Linked DNA regions of Homo sapiens: region 2 is linked to region 1. A link means that fine-mapping ties the variant in region 1 to the expression of a gene that starts in the linked region. Tissue or cell type: tibial nerve. Region 1 holds a variant in brackets; the other region holds the start of a gene. All regions are shown on one strand. Distances are between the middles of the regions.

Evidence for each region. PIP is the estimated chance that this variant, and not a neighbour inherited with it, causes the effect.
Region 2: RIN2 starts here. The variant in region 1 is fine-mapped to the expression of RIN2 in tibial nerve (GTEx, PIP 0.98). The same link has a PIP of 0.9 or more in lung.

The regions. Positions count from the first base shown.
Region 1 is chr20:20,000,748-20,005,893 of GRCh38, forward strand. RIN2 (Ras and Rab interactor 2) reads left to right here. Exons shown (of 13, transcript NM_018993.4): 13 at 1-1,709. The coding sequence ends at 189. Among named protein-coding and RNA genes, the nearest start is that of NAA20, 14 kb to the right of the region's middle. The variant A/G (reference allele first, on the strand shown) is at 2,459.
Region 2 is chr20:19,755,812-19,760,957 of GRCh38, forward strand. RIN2 (Ras and Rab interactor 2) reads left to right here and starts at 2,447. Exons shown (of 13, transcript NM_018993.4): 1 at 2,447-2,516. RefSeq lists an enhancer at 2,836-3,410.

The sequences.
Region 1 (5,146 bases):
TACAGCCTCTTTCTCTTCGTTGACGAGACATGGCAGCAGCTGGCAGAGGACACTTACCCTCAAAAAATCAAGGCGGAGCTGCACAGCCGACCACAGCCCCACATCTTCCACTTTGTCTACAAACGCATCAAGAACGATCCTTATGGCATCATTTTCCAGAACGGGGAAGAAGACCTCACCACCTCCTAGAAGACAGGCGGGACTTCCCAGTGGTGCATCCAAAGGGGAGCTGGAAGCCTTGCCTTCCCGCTTCTACATGCTTGAGCTTGAAAAGCAGTCACCTCCTCGGGGACCCCTCAGTGTAGTGACTAAGCCATCCACAGGCCAACTCGGCCAAGGGCAACTTTAGCCACGCAAGGTAGCTGAGGTTTGTGAAACAGTAGGATTCTCTTTTGGCAATGGAGAATTGCATCTGATGGTTCAAGTGTCCTGAGATTGTTTGCTACCTACCCCCAGTCAGGTTCTAGGTTGGCTTACAGGTATGTATATGTGCAGAAGAAACACTTAAGATACAAGTTCTTTTGAATTCAACAGCAGATGCTTGCGATGCAGTGCGTCAGGTGATTCTCACTCCTGTGGATGGCTTCATCCCTGCCTTCCTTCCTTTCTTTTTCCTTTTTTTTTTTTTTTTTTTTTTTTTTACAAAGAGCCTTCATGTTTTTATATATTTCATAGAAATTTTTATAGCAGTTGCAGGTAAACTGTCAGGATTGGTTTTAAAATATTTTTGTAACTTTAAAATATTCTATAATTATGCATGTGATTTTAACATTTAATATTCAAAAATAAATCTCTTGCTGGATTTGAGAGTATTGCATTTTTAAAGTCTCTCTTCTGTAACTGGATGTTTTGGCAACTTTGTGGGGAGAGACTGCTGGATTTCTTAAAGCAACGTATTCCTGACACTGGCCACAGAATGCCTTTGGAAATCGGATGTACTGTTCTCTTGTTCACGTTTAGTGGTGTTTTGCTGTTTTGTTTTTTAAACAAATGATGCTGAGAATAAGGAGAGAAATGAATGTAGAGAGAGGTAGAGAGAGAAATATGAACTCTAACAAAGGACTGAGGAGTGCAGTCTGCTGGTTCAGGCTCTTCAAAAGATGTAGAAAAAGAGATAGAAGGAACCACCTATGCTTAAAATACTGTAAATATGCAGTGAGGTTTGGCAAAATCTATTCCATGTGTGATTTGCTTGTAGAAACAATTTTGAAAGCCCCTTGAGGAAAATAAAAATCAAGAAGAACACTTTTCTCCCTTTTCCATACAAATTAAAACTTAACAGCATCAAATTATTGGGACCAGAAACCAAGTAATGTATAATGTGGCTTTTGTTGAGTTAAATAAGATGCTATATAATGGAGAAGAATTTGAAAATGCACAAAAAAATCAATCTACATTATCAGAACCTGCAGTGAAATTAAACTTATGTTAAATAAAACCAGTTTGCAGGTGCACAAACTATGAGGGTCTTGTATCCACGTAACACAGGTAGTTACAAAAACATGTTATTGTACTGTGTAAAGATGCATAGTCATCTCATTTGGTTGGCTTTGTACCTTGTACCTTTTTTAGCCTTGGCTTTTGTTGAACTAGAACCCTCAGCACATACTGTGTTGTACTTTTGTAAATGATTTTTTAAATGGAATTTTGCACATAATACATTGTAATACTGTATGATAATCATGTGTGAAAATAATTTTTGAAATATCCTTTGGCTGTTTTTTTTTTTCTTTAGAGTAAGAATATATTCATGCACCACGCAGTGTCATGGACAGATGAAATCCGAACCAGGGTTTGTGGTTAGACAATGTATCGTGGGGGTGAGCAGAAAAGCTCACATTTCTCAGAAGCTCCTCCTGATATGGGGCAAAAGTTAAGGAGCAGAAGGAAAAGATCATCCTCCCACCTGAAAGTGTTTTCATTGTTATCTAGTGCTGTACTTGGCTCAGTGGGACTTAGAGCAAATCACAGGTAATTTGAACCCGGAGTTAGCTGGGGTCCTGCAGACAGCCCCACCCTGTCCTCACGTAACCTCTGCAATGCCCTGGGTGACAGTTCAGTGCTGTTGCAAAATTGATAGCGCAGAGGCTTGGACTCCTCGCTGCCATACTCCCCATGCTTGGAAGGGTGCCTGGCATATATTAATAGTAAGTGCTCAATAAATCCTTGCTGGCTGAAGGAAGGAAAACATGAGTTTAGAAGGGTTTCTAACTCATCAGTGGGAGAGATCCGTAAAGATCAGAATGAGAATTGAATGGGCTGCCTGCTTTTGATATTTACAACGGACCAAAAGATGACAGCTCAATCCATATGGTTGTCCTCCCAACTCTTCAAACTAAGATCATCATGCTTTGTTGATTTAAAGCAGGTCACAGCCTCTGGATGCGAGGCAGCCTTGCAGCCTTCGGTGGGACGAGAGCGGGCTCAGAAGAGGAAAAGGTAGCGTGGGCAGAAAGCA[A/G]CATCACAAGACGGTCCCTGGTTTTGTCATTGGGCAATGTTTCCCCGTTAAAATTACAACACAACATGTGCCTCCACTTTTTCCCCCACGCAGGCATTTCTCACTTCTCAAATTGCCAGGAAACAGACTTGGGTGAAGGTTGGAGGGAATAAGAGGAGAGTAAAAATATACATGCTGGGTGGAGGAAGAGGAGAACGCATTTCCAAATTTAAAAATACATTATAGCTGAGGTGGGAGGATCGCTTGATCCCAGGAGTTTGAGGGTGCGGGGAGCTATGATCCCGCCACTGCGTTGCAGCCTGGACGACAGAGCAACCCTGTCTTCCCCCTACAAAAAAGTAAAAATAAAAACATGTTATAAAAGTTGAACGCCGGCCAAAGGAAGGGATTTTTTTTTTTTTTTATGTTGCATGCGCTGCCAAATACTTTCACTCTAGTACCACCCCCACACCCCCGGGACACAGAATAGAAATAGAAACTGTTGAAGTAGTTCATATTATGTGGAGGTTACAACTTCAGATCTATAAGAAAATACAAAGGACAGGAAACCCAGCTATGAATGCTTCCATTCACAAATGCGGTTCCGTCCTCATTGGGCAGCTGTTACCTTCATCTTCTTTAAGAGACTTGAAATGAGGCAGCGCTCCAATCTTTAACGCCTGCTCATGCCGTCATGCCTGGTCACACCTAGTCACTCCTGGTCTCCTACCAGCAGTCTCAGAGAAACAGAAACAGCACAAGAAGGACTCCGAAGGGCACAGTGTGTGTGGAACACAGGCATTTTAATCATCTGGCAGTATCTGATAGTAAAATTCTAAGTGTCCTCATTTTTTCGGCCCATTTTCATGATGGTGAATTTGAGACCAAAAGTACTTTTTGTCATTTGGTTAACTCTAATTCAGTTGGAAATATGGGAAAGAAATCGCCTAACATTGCAAAATCCTAAATACGTGATAAGGAAAGGAAGGAAAGAAGGCAGAGAGGGGCCAGGCGCGGTGGCTCATGCCTGTAATCCCAGTACTTTGGGAGGCCAAGGTGGGTGAATCACTTGAGGTCAGGAGTTCAAGACTAGCCTGGCCAACATGTGAAACCCCATCTCTACTAAAAATACAAAAATTAGCCGGGCATGGTGGCAGGCACCTGTAATCCCAGCTACTCGGGAAGCTGAGGCAGGAGAATCCCTTGAAGCCAGGAGGCGGAGGTTGCAGAGAGCTGAGATGAGGACACTGCACTCTAGCCTGGGCAATAGAGCAAGACTCAGTCTCAAAAAGAAAAAAAAGAAAAAAAAAGAAGGCAGAGAGGGAGGGAGGAGGAAAACATCTGGCATTTGTCTCAAGAAACAGGTTCTGATTAGAAAAAGATCGATTTTACTCCAACATCAAAAATGGTGGCAGTTGGCACAAACCTTTCCCCCATGAATACTAGCTTTGGAAGAAATGTAGGTATGGGAAGTTAAAAATATATATAATTATTCTGAAAGGTCTGGGCATGTAACCTTTTTTTTTTTTTTTTTTTTTTTGAGACAAGGTGTGACTGTCACTCAGGCTGAAATGAAATGCAGTGGTGCTATCTCGGCTCACTGCAGCCTCAACCTCCTGGGCTCAAGCACAATCCTCCTACCTCGGCCTCCTGACTAGCTAGGACTACAGGTGTGCACCACCATGCCCAGCTAATTTGTGTTTATTTTTTGTAGAGGTGAGGTCTCACTATGTTGCCCAGGCTAGTCTCAAACTCCTGAACTCAAGGGATCTACCCCCCTCAGCTTCCCAAATTTCTGAGAAAGTGTAACCAAGGCCTCCCCTCAGAAGTCTCCCTGGAGAAGCTTCAGTTGGAGTGAGGTGGTTGGGGGTGGAGATGGGGGCAGAGTTTCTTATCTCGAGTCTGCTATAAATTCTCCCATTTAAAAGTAAAATTTGCCTGAACTCTGAGGCTGCATGTAAGACACTTAGACTATCATTACATTAATGAATCTGAGTATTTCCTTTGAGTGCACACATTAGAACTACTACAGCCAGCCCTCATTTCTCACTGCTGGGGAACGGGGGTGGTCAGATCCTGCCACCTGTGGAGAGGGGCTCAGAACCTGAGGACCACGGGTGGCCAGGGAGGAGCTCCTAGACGGCCTTCACCTCTGTAACCAGCCTTCGGTTTCCTGGGGGAAATATCACTACACATAATTAGCTCCATTGCTTCCCTTTCTTCCCATTTCCCCACCATGATTCTGTGGGCTGGGTTTTCCCTCACGTAGTAGGTTTGAGGGTGCTCTTAACTCTATTCCAAGCCTCCTTGCCAAAAAGCAGGCTCTGATCCTTTTCACAGTTTGTTTCTTCAGTTCCAACCAGAGACTCAAAAAGTGTGAACCCGGCCCCACTGCAAACATTACCCGCCCACACTATCTGTCACCAAGACCCAGTGTCCGTTGTTCCATTTGAATAGGTGGCTCTCAGCTTTGGCTGTCAGCTTGAAGTCACCCGGAGCCTTTTAAAACTCCCAATGCCCCAGCTGCCCAGACCATCAGAATCTCTGCAGAGGCGACCCAGCCAGCCATATTTATTTTAAACTTCCAAGGTGCTTCTGCTGTGAAAACTACTAGTTTAGATCAAAATCTGGATTTTAATATAAAAACACACCTGCGAGAAGTAACACCTTTGCCTAACCAAGACCACTGACACCTAACCAAGCATGCAT
Region 2 (5,146 bases), 240 kb before region 1:
CCCCTGCCCCAGGAAAGGCAGAGAAGGGGTAGAGACAAGGAGAGAAGGGGTTGGGGTACTTGCCCCTTCCCCAGAAAAGCAGGACTTGCCGCTAAGGGTGAAGGACCAAGGCAGGCGTCCCTGCGTGGTCTGACACCCTTGAAACGTGGGTGTATAATCACAGAGGCATCCCTGCAATGATTAAACACCAAGGGAAGGCTGCCTTCCCAGTCCGTGACCGGCGCCGGAGTTTTGGGTCCACGGATAAAACGTGTCTCTTTTGTCTCTACCAGAAAATGAAAGGAATTGAAATTAAGAGAAGGGAGAGATTGAAGTGTAGCGCCAAGATTGAAAGGAGAAAGAGGTTGAGGGATAGTGAGGCAAGTTGGAGAAGAGAGTAAAAAGAGGCCGCTTACTGGATTTGAAATTGGTGAGATGTTTCTTGGGCTGGTCGGTCCTGAGGTCGTAGGTGGATCTTTCTCACAGAGCAAAGAGCAGGAGGACAGGGGATTGATCTCCCAAGGGAGGTCCCCCAATCTGAGTCACGACACCAAATTTCATGCGCGTCCGTGTGAAGAGACCACCAAACAGGCTTTGTGTGAGCAACATGGCTGTTTATTTCACCTGGGTGCAGGTGGGCTGAGTCCAAACAGAGAGTCAGCAAAGAGTGGTGGATTATTATTAGTTCTTATAGGTTTTGAGATAGGCGGTGAAGTTAAGAGCAATGTTTTGTGGGCAGGGGTGGATCTCACAAAGTACATTCTCAAGGGTGGGGAGAATTACAAAGAACCTTCTTAAGGGTGGGGGAGATTACAAAGTACATTGATTAGTTAGGGTGGGGCGGGAACAAATCACAATGGTGGAATGTCATCAGTTAAGGCTATGTTTACTTCTTTTGTGGATCTTCAGTTACTTCAGACCATCTGGATGTATACGTGCAAGTCACAGGGGATGCGATGGCTTGGCTTGGGCTCAGAGGCCTGACACACACCATCTATTTAATTCTGTGACCTGCTCCAGACACAAGCACTCTGGGCCCCCATATTCTTTTTCTTGTTTTCCCTATCACCGACCTCTTCCAACACCCCAAATAATTTACTTAGGGATGGCCATGGTTTACCCTCTGTCTCCCACTTCTTCCCCGCAGGCCTTCAGCTCCCCCAGGTGAGGGAGACCTTTGCTTTGTTCACCGACATATCCCAAGCATTAGAACTGCGCCTGGCACCAGCAGGTGTTCAATTATTTATTTAATGGGTGACTTGGAGCAGAAACCGAAGTGCAGTGGACTGTTTTCCTGGGATCTGAGCTGATGATAAATGATAAATAAGTCTTGGGATTTTAGAAGGCAGGAATCACGAAAACCAACACCAATGAAATCCAAGTCTCCTCTGCTACTATCTGAAGTGGAACAGAACAGAAATAAGGTCTGTTTTCTTTCCGCTTCGCTGTTCTGTTTCTGTCCAAAACAACCGTCTCTCTGACACCTTCGAGGTGTCCCTTTGTCTCTTTGAGGTTCCCTCCGTGACACTGGCTACTTTGTAACTCTAACACTGTCAGCAATTAATTCCCAAAGGTGAGGTCCCCGTGGGAAGTGGGAAAACCCAGCGAATCACCAGGGACCCGCCTGATTCCGAAAAGGCTGGATGCTGGCTGGGAACCGGCCCCGCAGCTCCGGCGTCCCCGCCTGCCTGCGCGGCCTTCAGCTGGGGTTACGGAGGGCTCCCAGCGCCGATCCAAACCGCGTTCCAGGCGGGGTGGGCGGGCCCCTGGCCAGCGAGGCCGAAGCAAAACAACCCGCCCAGGCGTCCAGAGCGTATCCAACCCTGGAGAACCTGCCCCGGAACCAAGAGCCGCAGCCAGCTCAGGCCTCTCGAGTGGGGCCTTTCCAGCCCCTGCAACAGATCCCGGGATCTGTAGTTGGGCGGAGGGGCTCGTTATGGGAAAGGGGTGCGTGCGCGTTTGTGCTAAAACAAGAAAGGCAAGAATCTCCGAGAACAAAACTCTGGTCCTCGCCTGGCCGGGGACCGCAGAAGACAGGGGCGGCAGCGCCAAGGCGGGTCAGGGGCCGGTCCAGCCAAGTTTGCTCCGGCTTAGATAAACTTTCTGATGGCAGTTTTTCCTGGTTGCAGCCTGGGTTCCTTGTAACAGGGTAAGCGTAGCGGGTGGTTGTCAAGAGGGGCGGAGGCTGGCGGTTACAGGGAATGGAGGGATGGGCCGGACCTGGGGTCGCGCAGGCGCCTTGGTCGCTGCCTCCGATCCGATCACCCCCGCCCCATCTCCTCTGCGAGCTCAGGAAGGTGGCTGGGGGAGGGGGATGGCTCCCTACTGCCGAGGGACGGCCCGAGGCAAACACAAAGCCCTTCCCTCCCCTCCTCCTCTTTCCTCTCCTCTCCCCTCCCCTCCCCTCCTTTCTCCCCCTTCCTCCTCTTCCTCCTCCTCCTCTTGCTCCTCCCGGGCGGGGAAACCCAGCCCCGCGCTCGTCTTTGGGGCCACCGGTCGCCCCCGCCTCCGGGACCTGCGGGGAGGGCCCGCGAGAGGTAAGGGGCGGTGGCAGCGGAGACCCCACCCCCTGTGCCCGCACCTAGAGAGCCCGGAGAGGCTCCGGGCACGGGCGGGGCTCTCTGGGGTTCCAGACGTGGGTGCTGCTGTGCGCACTCTCTCCCTACTCCGGAGGGGACTTGAGGAAGACAGCCAGAGCGCGTCCTCGGGGATCGTGGGGAACGGAAGGGGGAAGGGGGATCAGGGAGTGGGGACAAGGGGCAGAGTGACATTCCGGAGCGCGAGGTGGCCGCTGGTCCCGGCAGGGTCACCGGGTGTCCTCAGCTGACCTGTGCGGGGCTGGGGTGAGGGACAGCTGGAGGGTGCAGGCACTATGGCTCGAGGTGCGGAGGTGCGGGTGTGCGTGCGTGTGCACCGGACGGAGTTTGGTAGGGACCTTTGAGGAGTTCTACCTGCAGGGCTGCCTGTGGGGTGTCAAGTGCTCCCTGCGCCTGAGCGCGCGGGTCAGACCCGGTGTCGCACAGCTTTGATCCCCAGCGCGGACCCCACTGGTGAGTCCAGCCAGTGTGCAGGGCAGATGCTCCGACCGGAGATTTCCTCCCCCGGGTGGAAAAGCAGGAGGGTTGTTGTGTCCGGGCAGGGGGCACTTGGGCTGTCGCGGTGATTGATGGCTGCGCAGCGGGCGGAGGAGGAGCCCCGGATTCCTGCCGGGAAGGGACGGGGCCACTTTCCCACTTTGAGGCCTCCCCGCCCCCTTCTGGGCTTGGCCTCCACCCTTGGCCTGGGCTCCCACCAGCTCGGCGTCCACCCACCGGCGGTGGCGCGCCCCTCGACCGCGCGGGGACAGCAGGATTTGCAGAAGTTCAGCTTGAAAGCCTATGATATGTTGCCAAGAAATACAGGGCAAGATCGGTCCCCTGGGCCCTGAGAGGCGCCTGTCTTCTCAGAGCTCTTAAATCCCTGGGGCTTTCCTAATTCCGCAGTGTAGCGGCACTTCCTTGCGCGGTTTTGGGCACATTGGGGTTTCTTAGGAACACGCTGTCATCGGTAAGGAAACATCAGAGTACTCTTCGACCAAAAGGACTGTAAATACTGAAGCAAAAAGAAACACTTGCTGGGAGTGCAAAGGGCTTACTGGGAAAAAAGAAACACACAGGGCAGCACTCCATCATTAAGATAAATAGTATTTTAATACAATCTTTTTAACAAAACCAAATTGAATGTAAAAAATTCATGATAAGCAAAAATCAACATTTTAAATACAGGTGGGTGTTGTTAGAACCCTGCTTCATAGGCCGGGTGCAGTGGCTTATGCCTGTAATCCCAGCACTTAGGGAGGCCAAGGCAGGCAGATCACTTGAGGTCAGGAGTTCAAGACCAGCCTGGCCAACAGGGTGAAACCCCATCTCTACTAAAAATACAAAAATTAGCTGGGCCTGAAGGCATGTGCCTGTGGTCCCAGCTACTCGGGAGGCTGAGGTGGGAGAATCACTTGAACCTGGGGGCAGAGGTTGCAGTAAGCCGACATTGTGCCACTCCACTCAGCCTGGGTGACAGAGTGAAACTCTGTCTAAAAAAAAAGAACCCTGCTTCATTGTTCAATGGGAACAGTCATATCCAGTCTCCCTCCCCCACCTCCCCATTTGTTTGTTCCCTTGCCTGGTGGTTTGAGAGTTGACAGTGGCATGCAACAGATTGAGCAACTCTGGCTTCAGATGTAGTCACGTTCACTGAATGCAGAGCTTTTATTAACTTTTTACCTAATTCAAATGTAGGAGGATATTGTCATAAGTGGATATAGAGGTGCTAATTTTCCTTTTTGCCTCAGGTTCCAATATTGCCTCTGGAATACTCATGCACTCCCGTGCTTTGGCACCTCCAGAGAGAGCATCACAGGCTAGGGATGGGTAGGGTCCCGGGACAGTGAAGGGCCCTTGCTTTTGGAACTTGGGAAGAAGGCTGTTGACAGGAGCTTTTGGGTTTGGAGACTTGCTCTCAGTAGTTGGAGGCTGGAGACACGGGGAAAACCAACCTGCTATCAAGACCTTTGTCTGGAAACATTCTCCTGCAGACAGTTCATCAGAGCAGAGGAGGAAACTGAAATAGCCCACACTTGACCTCTAGTGTAGGGCAGGTGGGAGGGAGCTTGACTCCCAGGATGGCTATGGCGTGTGCTTATTTAAAGATAACTTCGCAGCAGCACTCTTATCCCCACCCAAGGTGTCCTGCCATACACCTTATCCAAAGTCAAGGGTCACTACCCACTTCAGGACTTCCACTTTCCAGAAAGAACCTCCTTGCTTAGCTAAACCCTCTTCCTCTGCTTGGAGGACACAGATGAATCAGGTATCACAGATGAAACACAGGGTATGCTACCCTGAGAGGTCCATGCTCGTGTGACCCATTAATGGGAGGCCCATTCTTCACATACTCTCTGTATTATAGTGCTTTGACCTTGTGCCCAATTCCCCTTGTATATCCAACCTACCTAATGAACCTTCAAGAATCCTAATAGTTTCAGCAAGAAAGATTTCCCCGACCCTGTCCTCCTTTCCCCAGTAAGACACCCCCTCACTGCCACCAGAATTCCTTGTGTGTGTGTATGTGTATGTATCTCTTAAAGCAATACAGTGGACCTCACTTGCCCACTGTCTGTAAGCTTCCCAGG